Linked DNA regions of Homo sapiens. The protein of the gene in region 1 purifies or fractionates together with the protein of each later gene. This does not show direct contact. Each region holds a gene or a part of one and is shown in the gene's direction. Other genes may lie near its edges. The genes, in order: ECI1, ACP6, ABAT, NFU1, HIBCH, HMGCS1 and CHID1.

The links.
Region 2: the proteins of ECI1 (region 1) and ACP6 fractionate together in Homo sapiens (co-fractionation; one large-scale study listed by BioGRID). This does not show direct contact.
Region 3: the proteins of ECI1 (region 1) and ABAT fractionate together in Homo sapiens (co-fractionation; one large-scale study listed by BioGRID). This does not show direct contact.
Region 4: the proteins of ECI1 (region 1) and NFU1 fractionate together in Homo sapiens (co-fractionation; one large-scale study listed by BioGRID). This does not show direct contact.
Region 5: the proteins of ECI1 (region 1) and HIBCH fractionate together in Homo sapiens (co-fractionation; one large-scale study listed by BioGRID). This does not show direct contact.
Region 6: the proteins of ECI1 (region 1) and HMGCS1 fractionate together in Homo sapiens (co-fractionation; one large-scale study listed by BioGRID). This does not show direct contact.
Region 7: the proteins of ECI1 (region 1) and CHID1 fractionate together in Homo sapiens (co-fractionation; one large-scale study listed by BioGRID). This does not show direct contact.

Annotation. Positions count from the first base shown.
Region 1 is NC_000016.10:2,248,788-2,252,750, reverse strand, and holds the start of ECI1 (enoyl-CoA delta isomerase 1, mitochondrial isoform 1 precursor), read left to right. Parts: upstream 1-1,163; 5' UTR 1,164-1,184; coding exon 1,185-1,236; intron 1,237-1,321; coding exon 1,322-1,435; intron 1,436-3,963. UniProt on the Homo sapiens protein: Key enzyme of fatty acid beta-oxidation. Able to isomerize both 3-cis (3Z) and 3-trans (3E) double bonds into the 2-trans (2E) form in a range of enoyl-CoA species, with a preference for (3Z)-enoyl-CoAs over (3E)-enoyl-CoAs.
Region 2 is NC_000001.11:147,664,025-147,667,524, reverse strand, and holds part of ACP6 (lysophosphatidic acid phosphatase type 6), read left to right. Parts: intron 1-3,500. UniProt on the Homo sapiens protein: Hydrolyzes lysophosphatidic acid (LPA) containing a medium length fatty acid chain to the corresponding monoacylglycerol.
Region 3 is NC_000016.10:8,779,117-8,782,616, forward strand, and holds part of ABAT (4-aminobutyrate aminotransferase, mitochondrial isoform 1 precursor), read left to right. Parts: intron 1-362; coding exon 363-474; intron 475-2,133; coding exon of another isoform or gene 2,134-2,192; coding exon 2,193-2,314; 3' UTR 2,315-3,500. UniProt on the Homo sapiens protein: Catalyzes the conversion of gamma-aminobutyrate and L-beta-aminoisobutyrate to succinate semialdehyde and methylmalonate semialdehyde, respectively. Can also convert delta-aminovalerate and beta-alanine.
Region 4 is NC_000002.12:69,416,936-69,420,435, reverse strand, and holds part of NFU1 (NFU1 iron-sulfur cluster scaffold homolog, mitochondrial), read left to right. Parts: intron 1-831; coding exon 832-898; intron 899-3,500. UniProt on the Homo sapiens protein: Iron-sulfur cluster scaffold protein which can assemble [4Fe-4S] clusters and deliver them to target proteins.
Region 5 is NC_000002.12:190,309,827-190,313,326, reverse strand, and holds part of HIBCH (3-hydroxyisobutyryl-CoA hydrolase, mitochondrial isoform 1 precursor), read left to right. Parts: intron 1-2,530; coding exon 2,531-2,573; intron 2,574-3,500. UniProt on the Homo sapiens protein: Hydrolyzes 3-hydroxyisobutyryl-CoA (HIBYL-CoA), a saline catabolite. Has high activity toward isobutyryl-CoA. Could be an isobutyryl-CoA dehydrogenase that functions in valine catabolism. Also hydrolyzes 3-hydroxypropanoyl-CoA.
Region 6 is NC_000005.10:43,303,413-43,306,912, reverse strand, and holds part of HMGCS1 (hydroxymethylglutaryl-CoA synthase, cytoplasmic), read left to right. Parts: intron 1-3,500. UniProt on the Homo sapiens protein: Catalyzes the condensation of acetyl-CoA with acetoacetyl-CoA to form HMG-CoA, which is converted by HMG-CoA reductase (HMGCR) into mevalonate, a precursor for cholesterol synthesis.
Region 7 is NC_000011.10:908,011-912,257, reverse strand, and holds the start of CHID1 (chitinase domain-containing protein 1 isoform a precursor), read left to right. Parts: upstream 1-1,447; 5' UTR 1,448-1,483; exon of another isoform or gene 1,484-1,617; intron 1,618-3,612; exon of another isoform or gene 3,613-3,716; intron 3,717-4,247.

The DNA of each region.
Region 1 (3,963 bases):
GGCGCAATATTGGCTCACTACAACCTCTGCCTCCTGGGTTCAAGTGATTTTCCTGCCTCAGCCTCCTGAGTAGCTGGAATTACAGGCACCTGCCACCATGCCCAGCTAATTTTTTGTATTTCTAGTAGAGACGGCGTTTCATCATATTGGCCCGGCTGGTCTCAAACTCCTGACCTCATGATTTGCCCACCTTGGCCCCCAAAGTGCTGGGATTACAGGCATGAGCCACCGCGCCCAGCAGCAGGAGCTAATTTTTAAGAATTTTTTGTAGCAACAAGTTGTTGCTATGTTACCCAGCTGGTCCTGAGTCACTGGGGTTACAGGTGTGTGTCACCATGCCAGGCTTGCTTCCTCCTCCGTTAAGTGGCCATTTTTCCACCTCAAAAATTGGTTTGGGACACAAGGAAGAATTGGAAATGCTTAAGATGAGAACAAAAGTTGAGACCACCCAACACAGCTGGGACCTTACTGCCCAGTGCTCCCAGTGGTCTGACCAAAACCCCACACCAGACAGTACAAAGGCCCACTCCCGAGCTGCCGCTTACGGCCCAGCGGGAACAGACTGTATTCTTATCTTTCGGCATTTCTCTGCAAATAAAAAGGTGCCACTGCGGTCCGGCCTTTGTGCACTTGCCCTTGTGCTGAGCAAGGCGGGTGGCCTGTTCTTACCGCTGGGTTCTGCTGCCCCCACCCCCATTTCGGTGACTAAACCTGCAGCTCTGATCCTGTTCCCAAAGGGGCAGGAGGCCGGGCTCACCCCAGGCAGCCCCTGGCCTCCCTGACGGCCCCCTCGGGAGGGGTTCCGTGCTTTGATCGCCTTTCCAGCGCCGATACTGCAGTAGCTGGGCCCGGCCGAGAGCTCGCGGTCACGAACACCGGCAGCCTCTTGCCTACAGTGTCCCGCGCTGTAGAAGAGCCTGCCCTGGCGCTGAGCTGGTCGTGGCTGCTTCAGCAGTGGGCCTGCGCCTCCTTGTAGGCCAGCCCTGGCCCAGATCCAGGTGCCTGCCCCGGAAGCGCGCGGCTGCCCGGGGTGAAGCCGGAGGGCGGCGAGCGGCTGTTTCGGCCGGTAGGTGGAGGCGTTGACCAGCCTCTGGGAACGGGGCGGGACCTAGTTGGGGGGGCTCCGCCCCCTCCCCAGGAGGCGAGCTCAGCCCGCGACCTTTATCCCGCGCGTTGCGGTCAAGATGGCGCTGGTGGCTTCTGTGCGAGTCCCGGCGCGCGTTCTGCTCCGCGCGGGTGCGAAACCCGGGGTGGGCAGGGATCGGGCCGGGGCCGGGGCCAGGACCGGGAACTAACGGGCTCCCCCACGCTGCCTTCGCAGGGGCCCGGCTCCCGGGCGCGGCCCTCGGGCGGACGGAGCGGGCGGCCGGCGGCGGAGACGGCGCGCGGCGCTTCGGGAGCCAGCGGGTGCTGGTGGAGCCGGACGCGGGCGCAGGTGAGCGGGCGGCGCCGAGGGAGGGCGGGCGTGGGGTCAGGACCCGCGGGGGTCCGCGCTCGCGGGGTGCTGTCGGAGAACCACGTCTGTCGACGCTCGGTTTGTGTTTAGAACCCAAGTTTCGAAACAGAACCTTGCCGCTCTACCTGGGTTCGTTCGTCATGAGATAAAAGTTTCTGTTTTTAAAGTTGGCGGAGGCCGGGCGCGGTGGCTCACGCCTGTAATCCTAGCACTTTAAGAGGCAGAGGCGGGCGGATCACCTGAGGTCAGGAGTTCGAGATCAGCCTGGCCAACATGATGAAACCCTATCTGTACTGAAAAATACAAAAGAAAAAAATTAGCTGGGCGTGGTGGTGCGTGCCTATGCCTGGGAGGCTGAGGCAGAAGAATCGCTGGAATCTGGGAGGTGGAGGCTGCAGTGAGCCGAGATTGTGCCACTGCACTCCAGCTTGGGCCACAGAGCAAGATTCCGTCTCAAAATAAATAAATAAATAAAAATAAAGTTGGCGGGGATATGAGCTGTTATCTAAGTTATTCAATTGGAAGTGGAAAAGAATTGGAATCTTTTGGAATAAAATTACGTTTGTTAACACTCCCATGTGGCACAGAACCTCGTACCTACCCGCCCGTCAGAACCCTTGGTAAAACCCACTGGAAAGGATAGAAAAAGTACTTTTGGAAGAGAAGCCTGTGCGCTCCCTCCAGACAGGAGGCCGAGCTGAGGGCACCGAGAGGGCACGCCTAGGCGCCAGCAGTTCTGCTTCCAGGACATGCTGACCTGGACCTCCCGGTGCAGCAGTCCCTGCTGTGGCTCCTGAGAGGAGGCCCTCCCCCTCCGCAAGTAAGTCACAGCCCCTGCCCTCCCCAACCCCCCAGACTCAGGGCTGTGCCCAACTTTGCACAGCTTCAGGACTCCAGGCTCCTGGTGCCTCTGAACTTGGTTCCGTCCTCTCTGTCTGGGCTGAGGGAGCTGCCTGGGCTCTCTCTACAAACTTGAGAGGGACAAACTAAGACCAACTTCAAACTGACTTTTTTTTTTTTTTTTTTTTTTTTTGGAGATGTAGTCTTGCTCTCCAGTCGCCAGACTGGAGTGCAGTGGCGCAATCTCCGATCACTGCAACCTGTGCCTCCTGGGTTCAAGCGATTCTCCCTCCTCAGCCTCCCAAATAGCTGGGATTACAGGGACCCACCACTATGCCCACTAATTTTTGTAAAAACTGAGTTTCTGAAGGGATCATTTCTGTAGCATATTTGAATATATCTCAACAAAATGCAAAAAAAAAAATTATTATTTTTTTTTTTTTGAGACAGAGGCTCCCTCTGTCACCCAGGCTGGCGTGCAATGGCGCGGTTCCGGCTCACTGCAATCTCAGTCAGGCCTGACTTTCTGACTCCAAACTCTACTTTGTCTTTTTTTTTTTTTTTTTTTTTTTTTTTTTGAGACGGAGTCTTGCTCTGTCGCCAGGCTGGAGTGCAGTGGCACGATCTCCGCTCACTGCAAGCTCCGCCTCCCGGGTTCACACCATTCTTCTACCTCAGCCGCCCAAGTAGCTGGGACTACAGGCGCCCGCCACCACGCCCGGCTAATTTTTTTTTTTTGGTATTTTTAGTGGAGACGGGGTTTCACCATGTTAGCCAGGATGGTCTTGATCTCCTGACCTCGTGATCCACCCGCCTCGGCCTCCCAAAGTGCTGGGATTACAGGCGTGAGCCACCGCGCCCGGCTTACGTTGTCTTTTTATATGGTAAAGTGGGGAGGCACTCGAGTAAAAAAATTGTCATTGTACGAACACTTTTCCTTTTTTACCGGAGGTAATGTGTGTGTGTGTGTACATAAAAATCTTTAAAATATGCCTCACATTTACCATTCTAGCCATTTTGCAATGTACAACCCCGTGGCCGTAAGTATATTCACAATGTGTAGTCCACACTACCCATTCCAATACCTTAAGATAACATGTTTTTGAGTCCGGGCCCGGTGGCTCCCACCTGTAATCCCAGCACTTTGGGAGGCCAGGGTGCGCGGATCACGAGGTCAGGAGATTGAGACCATTCTGGCTAACACGGTGAAACCCCATCTCTACTAAAAAATACAAAAAAAAATTAGCCGGGCGTGGTGGCGGGCACCTGTAGTCCCAGCTACTTGGGAGGCTGAGGCAGGAGAATGGTGTGAACCCCGGAGGTGGAGCTTGCAGTAAGCCGAGATCGCGCCACTGCACTCCAGCCTGGGCAACAGAGCAAGAATCTGTCTCAAAAATAAATTAATTAATTAAATAAAATAAATAAATAAATAAATAGGAATGACAACCACATGGATGAACCTTGAACACATGATACTAAGTGGACAAAGCCGACAACAAAGCCCGGCGGTATCCCAGTGATATGGAATATGGCTGGAGCAGGAAAACCGCAGACACAGAACGCAGACTGGCGGCTTCCAGGGGCTAGGGGTGGGATGAGGAGCAACTGCTCATGGGGACAGGGATTCCTTTTGGGACAATGAAAAGGTTCTGGAACTAGGCAGCGGC
Region 2 (3,500 bases), on another chromosome or scaffold:
AGATGTTTTGGCTGGGTGTGGTGGCTCATGCCTGTAATCCCAGCACTTTGGGAGGCTGAGGCAGGTGGATCAAGAGGTCAGGAGTTCGAGATCAGCCCGGCCAAAATGGTGAAACCCCATCTCTACTAAAAATACAAAAATTAGCCCGGTGTGGTGGTGGGCGCCTGTAATCCCAGCTACTCGGGAGGCTGAGGCAGGAGAATTGCTTGAACCCGGGAGGCGGAGGTTGCAGTGAGCCAAGATTGGGTCACTGCACTCTACCCTGGGTGATAGAGCAAGACTCCATCTCAAAAACAAAAACAAAAAACTAGTGTTTTATTGGGTTGTTTTCTTATGGCTTGAATGGCTGTTGGTTTAACCTGTTTTGCTAAAAGATTGTGCTTTGGAAATAAAAATATAGAACTTGATTGGCCATTTTTTTTCCTGATCATTAGAGCAGATCCAAATGCACTATCAAAAGAAAAGATTTGGCACTGCTTCCAGGCTTCCCTCAACTCCCCTGGGTGTCAAGATGGCCTCCACCCAGGGAGATTCCTCAGTTTTTATAAAATAAAGTCCAACCTACCCCAGCTTCACTGTTGATTAAGACATTTGGGTCCCTATTTATTTGACAATATAGATGAGCTGGGAAGCATAATGTAAGAATCTTTTATTGCTTAGTACCTTTCCAAAACTCAGCTAAAAGAAGCGGTATTCAAGAAGCATTACATGAGGTCCACCCATTCTTCAGGATCGATGGTTCTTAACCGTGGTGAACATTGGAGTCAACTGGAAAGCTTTAAAAAATACACATGCCAGGGTCTCCCTCCGAAGGATTCTAATTTAATTGGTCCGGGGTATCCAGATAATGTAAAAGACTCTCTGGTGAAGCTTGAGAATTATCTGGACTGAAGAGCATTAAAAAAGTGGAGGCCCCACTTTTTTGGGGGATAATCCAAATGCGGTTATCCCAGGTTGGGACTCAGGCATCAGTAACTTTTAAAAAATGTCCTGGTAATACCAGTATACAGACAAGGTTTAATATGATTGCTTTATTTTAAAATCTACACCTGGGAGGTTTTTGTTTACTTTTATGTAGATTTGTTCTTTTACCTGGAATGTAGTATATCAATCCCAGTACAGAATTGCCTTCGCTGAAATGTGCTTTGGTAAGAGGTTATCTTTCTGTGTTGAGAGAACTAGGAGAAACAATCCCACAGAACTCATTGCTGTGACTGCTGAAAAGATGTTCATTATATTACTCTATCCTCTTTATGAGGACCCTTGGGAGGAATTTGTCTGTTAGCATTAGGAATGGTGTGCTTCTCCTGAACAATTGGCTTGCTTTTTTCTTTAAACTAGTCTAGCTGATCAAGTTTGTTTCTTTATGTAAAAGTCAGGAAGCTGGGTGCCAAGTCTGTGGCCCACCTATAGTAAGTAAACAGATCTTCATGGTGTACATATTTTAGTAACCGTGTTACTGCATCCATTTCTTTGTCCCTACATTTGTTTGCTTTTGTCTTTCTTGCCTACTTTGAATTGGTTGTCTTACTATATTTTAATTTTTGCTATATCTACTTTATTACCCCTTGAAGAGGGGTATACACAAAATAAGTAAAATTATCAAGTTAGTCTTTGCCACTAACTGGGAAGCTTAAGAGCAGGAATGAGAATGAGAGTGTGTATGTGGGGTGGACACTATTATATGAAACTGATGTATCATCCATTCTTGAAAATCTGAAAACTGTACTTTAGACTTGACGTGACCTGGACTCCAGACTCCTAGGAGACGCCAAGGGTCCTCTCTTGGTGAATGTGCCTAACAGATTTCTTAGTGAGGCTGAATGGCCCTGTGGAGCTTTGTGTCAGGCCCTGTGGTGGACACTGGAACTACAAGGATGGATAATTCAGTCTTGCCTTTAAAGGAGTTTCAATGTGATAAAGCAGAGACAACAGATATCAATTAAGGCAATATGCTGGGAGCACTGGGAACACAAAGGAGGTGTCTCCAAATGTCCAAAACTGAAATCAGCTTTCCACCTGTTTTTCTGTCTTGGTCTTAGTTTTAGTCAAGGAATATCTCCATTACAAGGCTCAAAAATCAAAGTAGTCTCTTTTTTGTTCTTCTGTGTTTACCTACCAACACAGTCCCCACATAAAGCTTTTATTTACTCACTTGCCAAGTCTAACTCAAATGTCTTACATCTACCTCCTCTATTGTTAACTGGCTTAGATGAGGCCTTAGGCTCTCATGTGGACTATTGCTAACATCTCAAAATGGGCTTTTCTGCATCTAGTCTTCCCATTCCAATTGTGATGTATGCTGCCAGGTTTCAGATTTATTCTGTGGAGCCTGTGGGCTAAGAGGATGTTGAGCGGCTGGGGCTGTGGGATTCCCTCCTACTTCAACTAGAGAAATTCGAGTTTTTGCCTTTATACATACAAATCTAAAGTTAAACTTTATGTGGTATTTTCTGATTTAAAAATTGGAAAACCATTCCCAGGTTGAGGCAAACCAAACCACTTCTTTGCCATACACATTCTTTACCATCTCTGCTTTGCGCAAGCTTTCTAGTTATTTTTGGAATTCTGAATGTCACCCTTTATAAGTACAGGTATTTGCTTGTCTAAATACTATTCATTTAAAATGCTATTCCCTCAATGAAACTTCTCCTGAATCCCCAGCCAGAAGAGAAGGTCTGTCTTGCCTTTGAACTGCTATGGCCTTCATATGGTTTCTTGCAGCACATGTCAGCTTCTATTATGGTATTGCTGTCATTTACATTCACAGCTGGCCTTTTTTCTTTACTAACTTGAACACCCAGGAAAGGCAGGGTCAAGTTTTCTCAAGATGGGTATCTTCCACAGGAGCTGGCAAATTGTTGGAGCTATTAATTGTACCTACTGTGTGTGAGGCCCTTTGCTGGGAAACAGAAGTCAATAGATGACCGAGTCTCTGTTCTCAGGAAGCCAGGACAGACCAGTAAAGGAGCTCGTTTAATACACTTTGGTAAAGGCTACTAAAGAGAGCCACTGAAGCTACTGTGAAAGCATAAGGCCATGACCAAGGTTTCTGGGAACACTTAAGCTAAGTCTTAAGGAATGAACAAAAGTCTTTCTAAATGAATGAGGAGAGAAAATTCCAGGCATAAGAAACATGATACTGAAAGGCCATGAAATATGAGAAAGGAAAGGAAGTTGCGTGGCTAGTGAGTAAGTATGTAGAATAGGGAAGAAGTGGTAAGGGGGCTGCTAGAGAGGAGGTGGGGCCACATGAGCCATGAACCCTCGAAGGGTTTTTTTTATCCAGAGGGGTTAGAGGGTCAGAAAGAGGGAGCAGTGATTAACTGTGAAAGAAGGAAGAAGGCCTCTCTGTGAACACCTGGTCCTCTGATGTGTCAGAAGGAGGTTCAGGTGTTGGAGACCAGGTGCCAGTGGGACTGACACATGCCTTTGGGAAGAATGGAGGGCTCCCTAGATGCCAAGAGAATCTGAGGCTCCCAGTACCATTCTCCTGGGAT
Region 3 (3,500 bases), 6.5 Mb from region 1:
GCTAAAGTCTCACCACGGCCCCAGTGGGGTCAACAGCATTTAAATCCTTCAGTTTATAGCAGGGTAAACAGAGGCACTTGAGTGGCCCAAGGTTATACAGTGAGAGGGACAGAGCTGGGCTTGGTTGTTGTTGCTGGTGGTGGTGGTGGTGGTTTTTTTCCTCCACACAACACACATGTGCACAGCTGGGCTTTGAACCCAGGCCTGAATGTCCCCAGAGCTCTTAACCCCCTGGAGGTCCTGCCAGTCCATGCAGAGGCCGAGGCTGGACCATGGGAGGCCTTTGACGAAGCACAGCCATTAAGCCCAGCTGGTACACAGGTGATGGGCTTTGACGCCAGCCTTGTCTCCTCCCACTACAGGCCCGGTACCCCCAGTTCATCAGCAGGGTGAGAGGACGAGGCACCTTTTGCTCCTTCGATACTCCCGATGATTCCATACGGAATAAGCTCATTTTAATTGCCAGAAACAAAGGTAAGGGGTCAGGAGTGGCTGCTGAGTTTCATGAGCATCCAGTATCTCCTGCTGTAGCTGCCACATGTTGCTAGGTACTCAGCAATATTTTGTGTGGGGGGCAGGTGGTACACAGGTCTGAAAAGAGCCTGAATGCTCTTTCTCCAAAGAAGAGAACATTACAAATGGGATTTCTTTATCCATTTATTTACTCAACAAGCGTTCGCTGAGGAGGTGAGTTGTAAGTGGACACTGGAGACAGTTACAGTGATGATGAAGACCATCAGAGCCCCTTCCTTCAGGAAGCATGCAGTGTAGCAGGAAGGCATGGCTTTACACATGGCATTTCACAACCAATCCATTGCAATTTTAAGTCCTGGGAAGGAGAAAACGCAGCTAAGAGAGCAGATAGCTGCAGCAGTTGGTGAGGGTAGGAAATCAGGGCAGGCTCCCTTGAGGAAGTAGCATTTTACCCTAAGTCTTGACAAACAGGGATTGGCTGGGTGAAGAAGGTAAGGAAGAGCATTCTGGGCGGAGGGAAGGGTGCATGCGATGGCCTGAGGTGGGATGGAGCTTACAGAGGTGGTAAAAGGGAAAGAAGGGGGCGTGAAGGCGAACGGTTGGGAGGGGATGAAGCTGGGGGAGGAGAGGCCAGGCCCGGGTCGCATGGGCCTGCAGATCAGGCTTAGCACTCCAGACTTCATCCTAGGAGCTGTGGGAAGCCACTGAGGACATGTGTGGCAGGGGTAAGGGCAGACGCTGTGGTGAGATCAGAGCACGTACTCTATGTCAGGCACATTGTCAGTTCTTCTTGTGCCATCTTACAGAATCCTTGCAGCAGCCTCAGAAGGGCAGGGATAATCAACCTCCATTTTAAAAATGAGAAAACGTGGTCTCAAAGGCATAAACAGGCCGGGTGCAGTAGCTCACGCCTGTAATCCCAGCACTTTGGGAGGCCGACGTGGGCAGATCAGCTGAAGTCAGGAGTTCGAGACCAGCCTGGCCAACGGGGCAAAACCTCATCTCTACTGAAAATACAAAAATTAGCTGGCCGTGGTGGCGGCACCTGTGATCCCAGCTACTTGGGAGACTGAGGCAGGAGAATGGCTTGAACCTGGGAGGTGGAGGTTGCAGTGAGTGAGACTGGGTTGCCACTGCACCCCAGCCTGGGTGACAGCGCGAGACTCCATCTCTAAAAAAAAAAAAAAAAAAGGCATAAACAACCTCGACAAGGAAAGGACACCAGCTGTAACTGTGAAGTCACCCTTTAAAATAAGCAGAGCCTGTCCCTCCTCCGTAATAGCTCAGCACCTCACACATGCTTCCGACTCAGCCTGTGCTTTTGCAACTTATTTGCTTACCTATTTTCTTTTCCCACTCCTCCATGACTTTGTGGAAGGCAAGGACTTTATCTCAGGATTTCTCTATCACCAGACCTAGCTTGGGGCAGCAAAGCAGGCACTCAAAGGAGAGAGGGAGGGAGGAAGGGAAAAAGGAAGTGTGGAGGGAAGGAAAGGAAGAAGAGAATGATGGAGGAGATGAATGAGGGGAGAGAGAAAGGAAATGAAGACTGGATGGGTGGGTGGTAGGAAGGAAGCCCGGGCTTCCATGATGGAGGATGATGGATGGATGGATGGATGGATGGATGAGCGTTGCCAACAGGCATCACTTTCCCCCCAGCTCTCCCAGCATGTGACTTTGAGAAACCACGCTCCTCACCTACCTCCTGCCTCTTTCAGGTGTGGTGTTGGGTGGCTGTGGTGACAAATCCATTCGTTTCCGTCCCACGCTGGTCTTCAGGGATCACCACGCTCACCTGTTCCTCAATATTTTCAGTGACATCTTAGCAGACTTCAAGTAAAGAAGCCATTTCCACTACAGTGAGAAAGCCCGGATCCCAACAGTTGTCAAATTGATTAGTTTGCCTAATTCATGTTTTCACTTAAAAGTATCAGAGGTGAATGCACAGTGAAGGGTGATTTGTGGGGAGGGAGCATTTTTGGTGGTCTTGGGGGAGGGGAGGGGAGGGAAGGGCTGGTGTTGATTTTCCTCCCTGCAGAGCCAATGGTGCACATTGGTTTAAGCCCAGAGATCCTGCTTGAGCCCTGGACTCATCTTGGGAAGGGCCATGGGAGGTCCTGGCTAGAGTTCTGCCCAACCTTGACCAACCCCAGCAATTTTTCCAAAAGCCAGTCAAGGGCATTACATTTGTTCCTGGGACTGGCAGCTGGGCCTCCTGGGTGCCAGTCCATCTCAAGTGCCATATTCTGTGATCACGGATGTTGGCTCCCCCTCGCCCTATGCAAGCAAACACACTCTCACCTCCTCTCCCAGCCTCCCGGAGCTCTGAGCACGCCCCACGCATGGTGCAGGAGGGACTGGACAGATCTGAGGAAGGCCGTAAAATGGGGACAGGAGGATTCAGCTCAGGAGTAAGGGAAGAGGTCCTCTGGCCCCCTGAAGATGAGAATCACCCCTCTCAGTGCACCTGGGGATCCCCCTAAACTGTGAATTCTGCCCTGGACAGGGCTTTGCCCTTGGAGGATCCCCAGGTGGCCTTACCCGTGATTCTTACTCGGCATCCTCCATTCCCCAAACTCCCTCCTCCCTGTTAAATGTCAACCTAGACCTGGACCTGGGTGGGAGGAAACTGTAGCCTGAGTGTCCACAGGGACACACGTGAGCCACAGGGCTAGAAGCACAGGCCCGTCACCCCAGGAGGAAAAGCCCAGGGTCTGGGGCAGCAGAGCCATCGCATCATGTTTCCCAGGGCAACTTGAGGTCTGACTTTTGGCTCCCTCGCCCTAAGAGGCTCTTCCTCTCTTTTGCTCATCCACCTTCACACCACTTGTGAGCTGACCCCCAGGAACAGCTTGGCTGTTCCACCAGAGCAGAGGGAATCATTGCTGGACTGGATTTCTTCTGGAGGGAAGCACCATGAATTAAAGGTGCCAGAGCTCCATGCATGGAAAAGTGGCCTGTTGGTTCAACGTGGTTTCCTTGTACTTGATCCTCCTGAAATGAGAGATTTTCCTGAGATGACTGAG
Region 4 (3,500 bases), on another chromosome or scaffold:
GTTCATATTTTGTATTAAAAAAGTAAAAGTAAAAAAGCCCCAATTAATTCAGTTATAGATTAGTTAGAGATTATTTCTGTCAGATGTTCAGTTGGCAAAATCTCTTTTCAAGTTAGTCTTTTGAAAATAGTCTGTTTAGGCTGGGTGTGGTGGCTCATGCCTGTAATCCCAGCACTTTGGGAGGTGGGTGGATCACCTGAGGTCAGGAGTTGAGACCAGCCTGGGCAACATGGTGAAACCCCATCTCTACTAAAATACAAAAATTAGCTGGGCGTGGTGGTGGGCGCCTGTAATCCCAGCTACTTGGGAGGCTGAGGCAGGAAAATTGCTTGAACCCAGGAGGCGGAGGTTGCAATGAGCCAAGATCTCACCACTGCACTCCAGCCTGGGGGACAGAGGGTGACTCCGTCTCAAAAGAGAAAAAAAAAAAAATAGTCTGTTTAGTGCTCAGTACAGTGCCTGGCACTTAGTAGGTGTCAAATATTGGTTGAATGAATGATTGATAGTATAGATATAGCAGTCTATTCATTCACCAGGTGATGGACATTTCCATATTTTTCTGTATGTGTGGCTATTTTAAATGAAGCTGCTATGAAGATTTATGTACAAGTCTTTGTGGAGCACGAGTTTTTATTTCTTTTGGGTAAATAACTAGGAGTGGGATTGCTAAATCGTAGAGTAGGAATATAAAACAAAATTGGCCATGAGTTGATCATTGTTAAAGCTGCAAAGGATATGTGGAGAATTTTTTACTTTTCTCTACTTTTGTGTATGTTTAAACTTTTCCATAATCAAGCATTTTAATATCTCTTATTTTTTCTTTTTTTGCAGGCAGTTATTTAGGATTGAAGGAGTAAAAAGTGTCTTCTTTGGACCAGATTTCATCACTGTCACAAAGGTAAACATAGGATTATATAAAATAAGACTTGAAATACTCTTCATTTTTTTCTGAGTCCAATGCCTCTCTCTCCAACATTTCCATTCTTTCTGTTCTTTAATTTTTATATTTTATTTTTGAGACAGGGTCTTACTCTCTTGTCCTCTAAATGTCACAAGAATCAAGCGAAATATGCTATGTTTTTCTTTTTCTTTTCTTTTTCTTTTTTTTGAGATGAAGTCTTGCTCTTGTCCCCCAGGCTGGAGTGTGATGGTGCGATCTTGGCTCACTGCCACCTCTGCCTCCCAGGTCCAAGTGATTCTCCTGCCTCGGCGCCCCCCCCCGCCACCCTGAGTAGCTGGGATTGCAGGCGCCTGCCACCATGCCCAGCTAATTTTTATATTTTTAGTAGAGACAGGGTTTCGCCATGTTGGCCAGGCTGGTCTAGAACTCCCGACCTCAGGTGATCCACCCGCCTCGGCCTCCAAATTGCTGGGATTACAGGCGTGAGCCACCACGCCTATAAAAAATATGCTATGTTTTTCAACAGTCAAGGCAGTATCTGCTAGAAAGGGCTGTTCCATTTTTGATGTCTACTAGATTAATGGGACATGAACTATTTAAATTTGAACTATGTATCCTTTTAAATCTGTTAATTGACATATATCCACGGAACTTAAATCACTTGCCTGATAGTGTGTGAAAATCAAAAATATTTATTAAACTCCCCTTAAGCAAATTGAAAGGATTAGTCTGAGCTCTTTATGTCCTTAAAAGTGGACATACTGGGGGCCGGGTGTGGTGGCTCACGCCTGTAATCCCAGCACTTTGGGAGGCCGAGGTGGGCAGATCATGAGGTCAGGAGATCAAAACCATTCTGGCTAACATGGTGAAACCCCGTCTCTACTAAAAATACAAAAAAAAAGTAGCCGGGCATGGTGGCGGGCGCCTGTAGCCCCAGCTACTCAGGAGGCTGAAGCAGGAGAATGGCGTGAACCCGGGAGGCGGAGCTTGCAGTGAGCGGAGATCGGGCCACTGCACTCCAGCCTGGGCGACAGAGCGAGACTGCATCTCAAAAAAGAAAAAAAGGGGACATACTGGGTTAGTGACATGTTAAATCTAGTCATCTAGTCCAGTATTCTCTTGCGGCTATTTATTTAGAGACAAAGTCTCACTCCACACCCAGGTCAGAGTGCAGTGGCATGATCTCAGCTCACTGCAGCCTAAGCCTCTTGAGCTTAAGCAGTCATCTCACCTCAGCCTCCCTAGTAGCTGGGACTATACGTGCATACCACCATGTCCAACTAATTTTTGTATTTTTTGTAGAGATAGGGTTTCGCCATGTTTTCCAGGCTGGTCTCAAATTTCTGAGCTCAAACAATCTGCTCACCTCGGCCTCCCAAAGTGCTGGGATTACCGGTGTGAACCACCACGTCCAGCCCCCCATTCTTCAGTTTTCTTTCTTCCATATTTTTTAAGGAGAAGAAGGGATGAACATTTATTTAATATATTCAATGTCGGATATGGCCCTAGTGCTTTACATATGTTATCTAATTCTTACAACTAGTTATTTTATAAGTGGGAAATTATATATTTATTTTTTAAAGTTATTTAGTTCTTTTACGTATAGCCTATGCTATATAAAAATTTTTATAGGTAAAAATGTGATTATATCTTAAAGGGTTTTGGTTTTTTTTTTTTTCCTATTTTTCTTGATTAGATTTAGTAAGTCATCTTTTAGCTCTCTTACTTTCATTATTTAGTTACCCTATTTGAAATTGCCCTAGCTCTACAATTTTTTCTTAAGTGAAATGACATAACCAATAGATAATATCCCAAGTTAGGGTATATGTTGATACACATATATGTATGTGTGTGTGTATATCTATCTATCTACACATACATATAGATGGGATCTTGCTCTGTTTCCCCAGGCTGGAATACAGTAGTGCGATCATGGGTCACTGCAACCACTAACTCCCAGGCTCAAGCGATCCTGCTGTCTCAGCTTCCCGAGTAGCTGGGACTACAGGTGCATGCCACTATGCCCAGCTAATTTTTTTTTTATTTTTTTTTATTGTAGAGACAGTGTCCTTCTATGTTGCCCAGGCTGGTCTCAAACTCCTGGGCTCATGCAATCCTTCTGTCTCGGCCTCCCAAAATGTTGGGATTACAGGTGTGAGCCACCACGCCTGGCCCACGTTGGTATTTAATAGACGGAATACTGGATTTATTTTGTTTTCTTCCAGTAATGTTTCTCATCATGGACTATCACATTTTACTGAATGTCTTCAGCAATCGCCTGTTTCTATTTCTGATTTCCAGTTGATAATTAGACTTCTTTATGCATCATTTGTGTTATTTTTTTCTAAATATATATGTATATTTGCAGCTTATATGCTGCCCTTTTTTTCTCATTCAGACAACTTTAGAATATTTTTTCTTTTTATTACCAATATTTTCCTATTTAGTAGAGCCTGCTATTTACTGAAGATCTGAGGTAACACTCTGATTTGTTTTCCAAATAATTTATTACCTACAACTAGTTTCCATTCCCAATCACTAAGATATTTCACTAGTTTTACTTTTATAACCTTAGCAGTCCCCATTTATCTCACCTTTT
Region 5 (3,500 bases), on another chromosome or scaffold:
CCAATATGCTAATAGCCTAAATAGGTAAGTGTAGGGAAGAACAAAGAAGTTGCTTATGAAAGGTTTAAGGAAGCAATAACATTTTTAAATAAGGGGAATAGGCTGTGAGCTCGAACATGCCCGTGAGCATGTCCAATAGTTACGTAGGATAGGGCTTAACAAAGAGTTACTAGCACAAAGCAAGGAGGCATGAAGAAAGTTAGTCTTTAAAAGAAATTATTATTTCTAACAGTTATGATTTATTCTTTAACAGGAAGAAAAACTTTGAAGAGGAAACTTTTTACTTTCTACACTCTGCCTCCCAGGTTTAAGCTATTCTCCTGCCTCAGCCTCCTGAGTAGCTGGGATTACAGGCGCCCACCACCATGCCTGGCTAATTTTTGTACTTTTAGTGGAAACGGGGTTTCGCCTTGTTGGCCAGGCTGGTCTGAAACTCCTGACCTCAGGTGATCCGCCTGCCTTGGCCTCCCAAAGTGCTGGGATTACAGGCATGAGTCACCATGCCCAGCCGAGTCTCCAGGTGATTCTAATGTACAGACCAGTCTTGGAATTACTGGGCTACATTTTACTTGTGAGACAAATTCAGAAAATGCTAGTTCAGGAATGTGAATTATAACTGACTTAAACAAATAGGTTGTTTCTCTCTTTTGTATAGTATTATTCAATTTGAATGTAATATAAAAAAGTCATATAAATTCTGAAAGGCAAGTTGGATTACAAATATTTTTATAAATTCAGTCATCCAAGTTGTTACAAGTGGTAACTGGTGATATTGCCTTTTGTGAAACCTCAGGCTGTTGGTCTTCATATAATCTCAGAGTATTCTTGAAAAATTAACAGATTGTCAGTTTATCAGTTCCATTAGTTGGTATATGTATCTGCACATGTGCACAGCCCTTATCAGGCTGCTGCAGCTACTGATTCTAGCTTTGACCTCTTTCCATAGATCTTAAATTTAGCTTCTTAAACAAAAAGCATGCATCTTAGTATATTCTAACTATAGTGTTTTTATTTGCACATCTGTCATTACGTTGTGGGTTTCTCGAGTGCAAGAGCTATGTCTTTTAGGACATTTTTTAAAAAGCCCAAAGCATAATGATACAACTTGATGAATTTTCACAAATGAAACATACCTAAATCACCAGCACCTGGATCGAGAAACAAGCATTCCAGAGGCCCTCCTCATGCCTCTCTCAATCACTGCCGTTCCCGGTGTTGTCTTTTACTTTCTTATTATAATTTACATAAGGCACTTGAGTACACCGTTCTGAAGTTTATAGCTTAGTGAACTTATACCTGCAGTCCTGTAATCAGCATTGGGATAGAGACAATTTCCAACATTCCGTGTTTGTTCATGCCCCTTCCCAGGTGCCCCCACCCTCACCATTCTCATGTCCATTATTAGTGGTCACTTTGGTCAAGCTGTGTCTCAGGCTTTGTATTCCTAGCCCAACAAGCACTTTTAAGACAGCAAAAAATAGAAGTGTGTTGTGTTTATTGTTTTGTAGCCTGCTCTCCTTTTGTGATTTGTCACTACTTTTCCATGTTAGTATTTTTAGTGGTTGTGTAATGGCTGTATTAATAGACACAGTCTTTAAAATAATGCTCTACTCTTAGACATTTACTTTGTTTTCAGTTTTTCCATCCTGTAAATAATGTGAACATATTTATCAATCAGACTTTGGTCATATTTCTGAGATTTCCCTAGTGCAAATGCTTGCGGAATTAGTGGATTGAAGGGTGTGATCATTTTAAAGGCTGTGGATTTGTATTTCCAGACTGTTTACCGGAAAGGCAGTACCAATTTATACCTCTCTCTAGTGTCTGAGAATGCTGTTTGTATTGCATCTTTAACAAACCTTTTTTCTTAAGATTAATGACTTTATTTTTTAGAGTAGTTATAAGTTGATGGAAAAAATGACCTGCAAATTTGAGCAGAAAAGTTTGACAAATAATAAGGACATGTATCAACCATTACAGTATCATACAGATTAGTTTCACTGCCCTAAACATCTCCTGTGTTTCAACTGTTCATCCCTCCTTCCGTCCCCCAAACCCCTGGCAACCATTGATCTTTCTACTGATTTCATAATTTTGCCCTTTTCAGAATATCATACAGTTGAAATGAGAGTATGTAGCCTTTTCAGACTGGCTTCTTTTGCTTAGTAGTATGTATGCATTTAAGTTTCGTCCAATTTTTTTTGTGGCATAATAGCTCTTTTCTTTTTTTCATGGCTGAATAATATTTTATATGGTTGTATTGAAATTGGTTTGTCTTCCAACCATTGAAGAACATCTTGGTTACGTCCACATTTTGGCAGTTATGAATAAAGTTACCATAAAATTCATGTGCAAAGTGGCTGTACCATTTAATGTTCCTACCAGCAGTGAATGAGAGCTAAACCTTTTAAAACTTTTTGTTCTGGTAATACCTTTTAGAAGAGGCTGAAACAAAAGGTGATATACTATTTGTCAACTGAGACATGACTACCCACATTACTGTTCTCATTGTTTTCCACATTTGTTTCAGGTTTAATGCATTCAAAAGGACTAATACCATACTGCACCATTTGGTAAGTTATTGTGTTTGTTTTGCTGGCATTATTTGTATGTGTAACTTAAAATGTCATTGTTAGAGAAGTAGAGAAATACTGGTATGGCAGATTTCCTTGACCTTAGGTACATCATGGTTCTCAACTGAGTGTCAAGACATGGCACACGCACCTTGTAGGAGGTGGCATAAGATTATGGTTAAAACCATGGTTCTTACAAGTCAGAATGCCTGAGTTTAAATAATGGGTTCACTACTTAATCTTGGGTGGATTACTTGGTCTCTTACAGCTTCCCTTTTGATATGTATAAAGTGAGAATAATAATAATATCTACCTTAGAGTGCTTATAAATGATAAATAAGATAATTGTATTAATCAGTGTTCTCTAGAAGGACAGAACTTATAGGACATATGTATATATGAAAGGGAGTTTATTAAGGAGAATTGACTCACATGATCACAAGATAAAGTCCCATGATAGGCCGTCCGCAAATTGAGGAGCAAGGAAGCCAGTGATGGATCAGTCTGAGTCCCAAAACCTCACAAGTTAGGAAGCTGACAGTGCAGCCTCCAGTCTGTGGCCAAAGGCCCAAGAGCCTCTGGCAAACCACTGGTATAAGTCCAAGAGTTCAAAAGCTGAAGAACTTGGAAGCTGATGTTTGAAGGCAGGAAGCATCCAGTGCCGGAGAAAGATGAAGGCTGGAAGACTCAGCAAGTCAAGTCCTTCCAACTTCTGCCTGCTTTTATTCTAGCCACTCTGGAAGCTGATTAGATGGTGCCCACTCAGACTGAGGGTGGGTCTGCCTCTCCCAGTCCACCGACTTGAATGTTAATCTCCTTTGGCAATACCTGCACAGACATACCCAGGAAAAATACTTTTCATCCTTCAATCCAATCACGTTGACAGTCAATATTAACCATCACAATAATGCATTAAAAAATCTAGCA
Region 6 (3,500 bases), on another chromosome or scaffold:
AGATTAGAAGTCTAGTACCATTTCATTTATTCAACATTAGCATCTACCATATGCCAAACAGTGGGTTGGGTACCGGGGACACAAAAATGAACAAAGCACGGTTCCTGCTCTCCAAAAGCTCCTTGTTTAATGCAGAGAGGCTAAGCCTAAATAATAGAGGAGAAACTTGGCAGTTTGAAATATAAATTGAATTTTCCTTATCTGAACAATGCTTGGGACCAGCAATGTTAAAGATTTTGGATTTTTCTGGGTCTTGGAATATTTGAGAAAACATACCATTTGAGCAGCCCTAATCTGGAAATCCAAAATCCAAAATGTTCCAATGAGCATTTCCTTTGAGCATCATGTTGGTGCTCAGAGAGTTTCAGATTTTGGAGCATTTCAGATTTTAGCATTTTTGTATTAGGAATGCTCAACCTGCAGCATCTTGACAATGGTTAGACATGCAGTTTGGAAAAAACTGTTGGCCTATGACAGAGAAGAGAGCAGAGGCAGAGCTCACTTAGGAGAGACTGATGCTGAAGTCCTTCCCCAACACAGCCATTGAGGAGCTAGGTTAGGACTTCCCTTGCACCAGTATCATCAGCTAGTTTCCCTCCCCCTTTTTTCCCCTTTCCAGTTCTCTTTCATTTCCAGATTTATTCTCAGAATAACTATATAGGTCTTTTATGTATTCTAGGCAGGAAGCATTCAGAAAACATTAACAAGGCTTCCTTATCTTGCTTTACTGATTCTGGAAATAGCATATGGAGTTTCTTTTGTCCACCAGAGGGAGTGAGCCTTCACTTTAATGAGACTTATTTAAGACTTTAGTCCTCTGTTGGTACTACTTTGTTGGAAGACTTGAAAGGTTTACAAAGTTCTCTGAAAGTTGCCTTTTCTCGCCTTTTTTAAGGATAGAATTTAAAAAGAAAATGTGTGTATTTTATTATAAATACAGAGTCCTCATTATTCTCTTTAGACTTATTTTATGGTGAATATAGTACTCTGAAAATAATAAAATGCATTATCTGTAAAAAATTAAAAACGTAATTTTTTTAACCATCAGATTTTTAAAATTATGTTCTACTTGAAAGTTTTTGTGATTTATCTCTTTTTTTAAATTTTTTAAATTTTTTTTTTTTTTTTTTTGAGACGGAGTCTCACTCTGTGACCCAGGCTGGAGTGCAGTGGCACGATCTTGGCTCAGATCTTGGCTCACTGCAACCTCCGTCTCCCAGGTTCAAGTGATTCTCCTGCCTCAGCCTTCCAAGTAGCTGGGATTACTGTTGCCCGCCACCAAAACCAGCTAATTTTTGTATTTTTAGTAGAGAGGGGGTTTCACCATTTTGGCCAGGCTGGTCTTGAACTCCTGACCTTAAGTGATCCGCCCACCTCGGCCTCCCAAAGTGCTGGGATTACAGGTGTGAGCCATCACACCCGGCCTCTTTATTCTTAAATAGTGAATTAACCAGAATATTCTATTCTCTGGTAGGGTAAAGAGTGAATACCATAATGTGAGCACCTCAGACCTGTAGCTAGTCTTTTTTTCCCTAATTTATATCTAACTATATCTAGCCTATTTCAGAGAGCATTTGAAAGGACAATGTAAGAGCACATGCTCAATAGGATAGTTAAAAGTAACATTTGCTGGGCACGGTGGCTCACGCCTGTAATCCCAGCACTTCGGGAGGCCGAGGCGGGTGGATCACTTGAGGTCAGGAGTTTGAGACCAGCCTGACCAACATGGTCAAACCCCATCTCTATTAAAAATACAAAATCAGCTGGGTGTGGTGGCACCCGCCTGTAATCCCAGCTACTTGAGAGGCTGAGGCAGTAGAATCGCTTGAACCTGGGAGGCGGAGGTTGCAGTGAGCCGAGATCACACCATTGCACTCCAGCCTGGGCAACAAGAGCGAAACTCCGTCTCAAAAAAAAAAGTAACATTTGAGACCAGAAACTATTAACTTTCTGTTCTTCTAAATGTCATGAAAGCAATTATTTCTCTGTATTAATTTTCCTGTCAACTTAATCACTCTCTTTCTGAATTTGAACCAAAGGCTAAATATTTCAGATTAGATGGCTTTTTACCAAGAACATAATGGAAAACACATTGGCTGTCAGAAACCCTCAGAGAATGAGTAATATTGACTGACTTGGACAATGTAAAAATGTTTTTTTCCATCAAAGTCAGAATTGTGTTTCACTTTCCATTTGATGTATGTGGGTTATTTTAGTTAACCTACGTTTTTTGTTTGTTTTCAAATGAAACATGTCATGTATTTAATGTAGGACATTTAGGAGTCATAGAGTTGTATCTTATTTTAGGAGTACTATAATACAAAGAATTGATCAGAGCTGGTCAGACTGTGACAAATACAGATTAATTCTGAAATGGAAGCCTTGCATTATAACTTTTTATAGAGAATTGTACAAGCATTATAAGGATAATTAAATATATTGCCAGTGTTGCTACATGATGCTCTTAAAAGACTAAAGTGAATTTATTAGTGAGTACAAGTATATTGCAAACTGGTTTATACCTTCAAAAAGATATATTCCCTGTTCACTTTATTTCCAATAGTGTTAAAAACCACTGAGCCAGGCAAGGAAGACCATACTGTCTTCAGCATATTTAAAGCAGTTTGAAGAGTTGAAAAGAATCTAAAGGGTAGCCTTGTGGGAAAGGCTGGAAAGGTGGTTACTCCTACTTTGGTGACTTAAGAGATCATATGTAGGAGCTTATAAGCCTATGGACTAGTCTTTTTCTGATAACAGTAGTTGTAGGGCTCTTTCTTGTGGACTATCCAGTATCTTATTTTACTATAAACTTAGAATCCATGCCTAGTGGCATATTAGGCAGCCCTTTTATATTTTCATTTCAAATTCAGCAAAGTGGGCACCAACTTTATCAAAAAATTGATGGGGAGAGTTTGTTGAAGCTCAGAGTGAGGATGGATGTAGAACATTTCAAGTGCTTCATATCCAGAAAATCAGTAGTCCTCCATCTGAGTTGTAGACACAGGAAAGGAGTTGAAGATGAATGGAGTAGGAATGTAAAAGCCTTATCTTTACCCTCCTCAGCTTTAGGTCTTAACAAGAATGAGCCTCCCTTAGTCTTTCTTTATGCCCCTGTCCCTGAATGTTGGTGATGACATTGTTTTTCCTGTATTGAATACAAAAATATGGCCAGTAATTTAGGAATCAAGAGGATATAATTCGGAAGTAGACTGTTGTGTTTAGGAGTTTTTCTTTCCATTGTGGAATTGAGTAGCAGCGGTATATATGCTATGTCTGGTAAAATGGGCCATACAGTAGTCTAAGACATGAGGAGACCTTAAGGAGCTTGGACTTAGTTGAGGTGACCAGACTATTTAATCTGCTTAGGTGCCACAGCAAAATACCATAGAGTAGGTGGTTTAAACAGCAGACATTTATGATCTCATAGGTTTGCAGTCTGGAAGTCAGGGTGCCAGCGTGGTTGGTTCCCGATCAGGGCTCTCCTCCTGGATTGCCCGTGT
Region 7 (4,247 bases), on another chromosome or scaffold:
CAACTTCAGCCTCCCAGGTTCAAGTAATTCTCCTGCCCCAGCCTCCCCAGGAGCTGGGATTACAGGCATGCGCCACCACGCCTAATTTCTGTATTTTTAGTAGAGACAGGGTTCCACCATGTTGGCCAGGCTGGTGTCGAACGCCTGACCTCAAGTGATCTACCCGCCTTGGCCTCCCAAAGTGCTAGGATTAAAGGCGGCGGCTGCCCGATCGATTCTGCAATTCTTTAGCGCCAAAGACCTCTGACCTCAATGAGATCCTAAAATGGCTAAGTGCCTTTCCTAAGAGAAGTTGGATGTTGCCATGGCCTCCTTAGCATTGGGAGGACTGCGCATATGTCCCTGAGGACACCTGCCATAGCTTACTGGGACCCTCTCCAGAGCTCTGCCGACTTGAGGTCTTCACCCCCAAAGGTCAGGCTTCAGGCCACCATCCAGGCCGTTTGCTGAGAGCGAGTGCTAAGCTGAGTAAGAGCCCACAGCTGGTGGGGGACGTGCCTCGCACCGCATGCAGCCCCCAGCCCCTTCTAGGAAAGGCGTGGGCGTCAGCTGGCAGAAAATACCGGGAAGGGAAAGAAGGAAACGTGACTAGAAAGAAAGACAAAGCTTAGTTTAAGGAGAAAGCTCCCAAGCAGCAGAAATGGAGAAGCAGCTGTGCAGGGTGTCTTGGAGCCCACGCGCGCCCCGGGAACGGCTGAGCGGGGCAGGGTGGGGCCCGGCCGTGCGGTTTTCTGTAGGAAACTGCGCTGGGAACGGCTAGGGCTGGGGGTGGGGGTCGGACAGCCTGTGCCGCGTAGAATGCGCGGTGACTCAAAAGTGCTGGCCACGCGCTCGTTCATCCAAGCGCGAGGGGCTGAGTTGGGAACTTGGTTTGCCTCCTGGGGCTCCGGCTCGTGCAATGTGCAAGGCGGGGGTGCGGACCGAGAGAGCGCGCGTTTCGGGCAGTCCCCGCTGGAGACAGCGCAGTGGGCGCCATCGGCCTGGGGATGGAGATGGTCCACTCAGGCGGGGGTCGGGGGGACGCCAGGAGTGGTGACTCCGGGTCCCCGGGGGAGCGTGCCGGGGCGGAGCCCACCGCGCGGTTCTCCCGGCACCGCCGAGCCGGGCAGAGGCCCTGGAGCCCAAGGCCCCGCGCGGCCCCACGCCAAGGGCGCCAGGCCTGCCTAAGAGCCGTGGCGCTGGGAACCCGGCTACCCCTGGGCCGGGAACCTGATAACCAGCTCCAGCGCGAGCACCAGGGGCGCTCAAGGTGAACGCGCCGGGCCCGGGGTCCGCCCCCGGCGCGGCCCCGCCCCGGCCCCGGCCCCGGCCCCGGCCCCGACTTTCGGGCAGCCCTGCCCAGTCCCCTGTCCTGGCCCAGCCCCTCTCCATCCCAGCGTGCCGTGCGCGGCGGCGGCGCGCGGGCGCCTGGGGCGGGACTTCCGGCGCGCTGGAGCGTTTTCCGGCCGTGCGTTTGTGGCCGTCCGGCCTCCCTGACATGCAGGTGAGCCCCGCGGCGGCCGGCCCCTGCTCCTCCTCCTTGCACGGCCTCAGTTTCCCTCCCGCAAAGTGGGCGCGCCGGGCAGCGAGGCTCGGCCCCGGGAGGACGGGCGTGGGGTCGCGGGCGACGCCGGGCGGGTGCGTGAGAGAGAGCAAGTGTGTGAGGGGGCGTGTGAGAGGGTGTGAGGACGAGGGTGAGAGAGGGTTGCTATGAGAGCGAGGGTGAGCGAGAGCGGGGGTGGAGGGCGAGTGTGGACGGGGGCGCGTGTCGGGGGGACCGCGAGTGGGAGGTGGAGCGCGTGCGCTGGGGCGAGCAAGCCTGAGAGCTAGGCGCGCTGGGTGGAAGGGGCCTGAGTGCGCAGACAAGGGATGTGGCCGGCGGGTGAGGAGTGTGTGAGCGCGCGGCTCGTGTGGCAGAGTGGTGGCCATCGGGTCCCCAGGACCCCCAGAGGGAGCAGAGGCAGTAGGGCTCCAGGCGGGCTGCCCTCCCAGTGAGGGGCACGCGGTCCCCGTGAAGGGTGGGCGCATCAGACGCGATCCCACCCACCCTTGGTTCAGCCCCAACCCTTGAAGCTTCCATTGCTGACTGTCCAAACTGGAGGGTGACCCGCCCGCCCGTCCGCCTCGACTTCCTGGGCTCTAGTAATCTCTTAGCCTCCTAGCTACTTGGGACTACAGGTGTGCGCCAGCGCACTCAGCTAAGAATTTTTTTTTTTTTTTGAGACAGAGTCTCACGCTGTCACCCAGGCTGGAGTGCAGTGGCGCGATCTCGGTTCACTGCAACCTCCGCTTCTGGGCTTAAGGGATTTTCCTGCCTCAGTCTCCCGAGTTGCTGGGAGTACAGGCGCACACCACTGCACCCAGCTAATTTTTGTATCTTTTTTAGAGACTGGGTTTCATCACGTTGGCCAGGCTGGTCTTGAACTCCTGATGGGGTGATCTGCCCGGCAGAAAAATATTTTTTGTAGAGACCAGGTCTGGCTGTGTTGCCAAAACCAGTCAAAAACTCCTGGCCTCCCAAAGTGCTAGGATCACAGGCCAGAGCCGCCATGCACCAGTTAGTTCTTCAAAACACAACAGAACAGGAGTTGTCAGTGCGTCCATCGCAGAATAGAGTTAGCTCTGATTGGCTGCTGTCGCTCTACACATGTACACACATGCACAACACATGTGCACACATGACATACACGTGTGCTGGGCTGTGACGTAAAGTGCATTTCTTACTGCTGGTCTCCATGAAAAGCATTGGAAAGCCCCTGCTGTGACTCCCATCATTTCCATCAACACCACCGAGGAGGTCCTGGACCTACGGACTGGGAGCGCAGGAAAGTGGGAGCAGTAGCGCTCCACCTTATCTTGTTACAGAGCGGTTTCTGGGACCCCTTTGGGTGACCAGGGTCGGGGCCTGTGCCTCTTCATAACACAACACATTCCCTTTGTGTGCGGGGCCGTTCTGCCCAAGGGAAGGTCATTGGCATTTGGGGAAGAAACGGTTTGATGCAGGAACACAGTGTGTGTGAACCTGGGAGTCTGTGTTATGTGAAGAGCATGATGGAGAGTGTCCTCACGGGCCTCAGAGCCGAGCGGCCGGTGAGCAGTGGGGAGCGGGAGAGGTACCAAAGCCCAGACAAGGGCCTGGTTGCAGTGTGAGCACCCCTCACACATCACACACACCATCTCCCTGGGGCAGTTGTCTGGAAAGTTCCATGGCAAGTCAAAGAAGCAGCCCAGCATTTGTGAGCAGCCTGTATCCAAGCACTCCATCACAGAGCGGGCAAGTTAAGCGCGAGTGGACAGAGGCAGTACCCTGGCCTTGTGTTCAGTTAGGTTCTCCTAGTGTCCCCTCTGCTGGACACATGCTGGCAGGACTGTCTTCCTCTTCCACCCTTTCCTCTTCCTTCCCTGAAGTGTGAAATCACAGGTTGGGGGGCAGGGAGGTCATAGGCAGAGGGGCCACTAGGTGGGTGGACAGTGGCCCTGTTTCAAATCTGCAGGACGGCAGGTAGGGGCAGAGACCCAGCCCTATAGTGGTTGGTCACTGGGTACCTGAGTGTGCCCTCCAGTTACTCCTGGGCCAGTCCCCTGGAGAACCACCGTTTGGTTTTTCATTCCTTTCCTTCCTCCCTGACCCAGATTTCCACCCAGAAGACAGAGAAGGAGCCAGTGGTCATGGAATGGGCTGGGGTCAAAGACTGGGTGCCTGGGAGCTGAGGCAGCCACCGTTTCAGCCTGGCCAGGCAAGTGATTCTGGGCCGTCTTCCCTGTGCCATGGCCAGAACCCTCCCCACCTTCCCTGGGGCTGTTGCTGACTCAGACCAAGCCTCAGCTGCAGCAGAAAGATAGTGGGGCTAAGGGGAGGTGGCAGCAGGCTGCTGCCCTTGGTTCTGATTCTGGGATGTATCACTGAGGAGAGGGGCTGGAGAGGTTGATCGGGGCAGAGGGTGGTGATCTGTGCCTGGGCCTTCTTATTCCCCCTGCACAGCCTCTCGGAACTGCCGTGGCTGTTCAAGCACTCACTGCCTTTGCCTGTGGCTCCATGTACTGGGTGCTGCTGTGCTTGCCCTGTGAGTTCCCTTCCTAACTCCCCATAAGCCTGCAGGTCAGGCTGTCTTGTGGCTCCCTGCCTCCTAGGTGGGGGAGCTTCACTGGTTGATCTTGCTCCAGGAGCGTGTTCTTTCTATGCAGGTGTGTTGTGGGTGTATTGGGTACCAAAGCATGCAAACTCCCTGCCTGGGGGTAGCCACAGTCTCCTCAGTCTGCACCAGGAG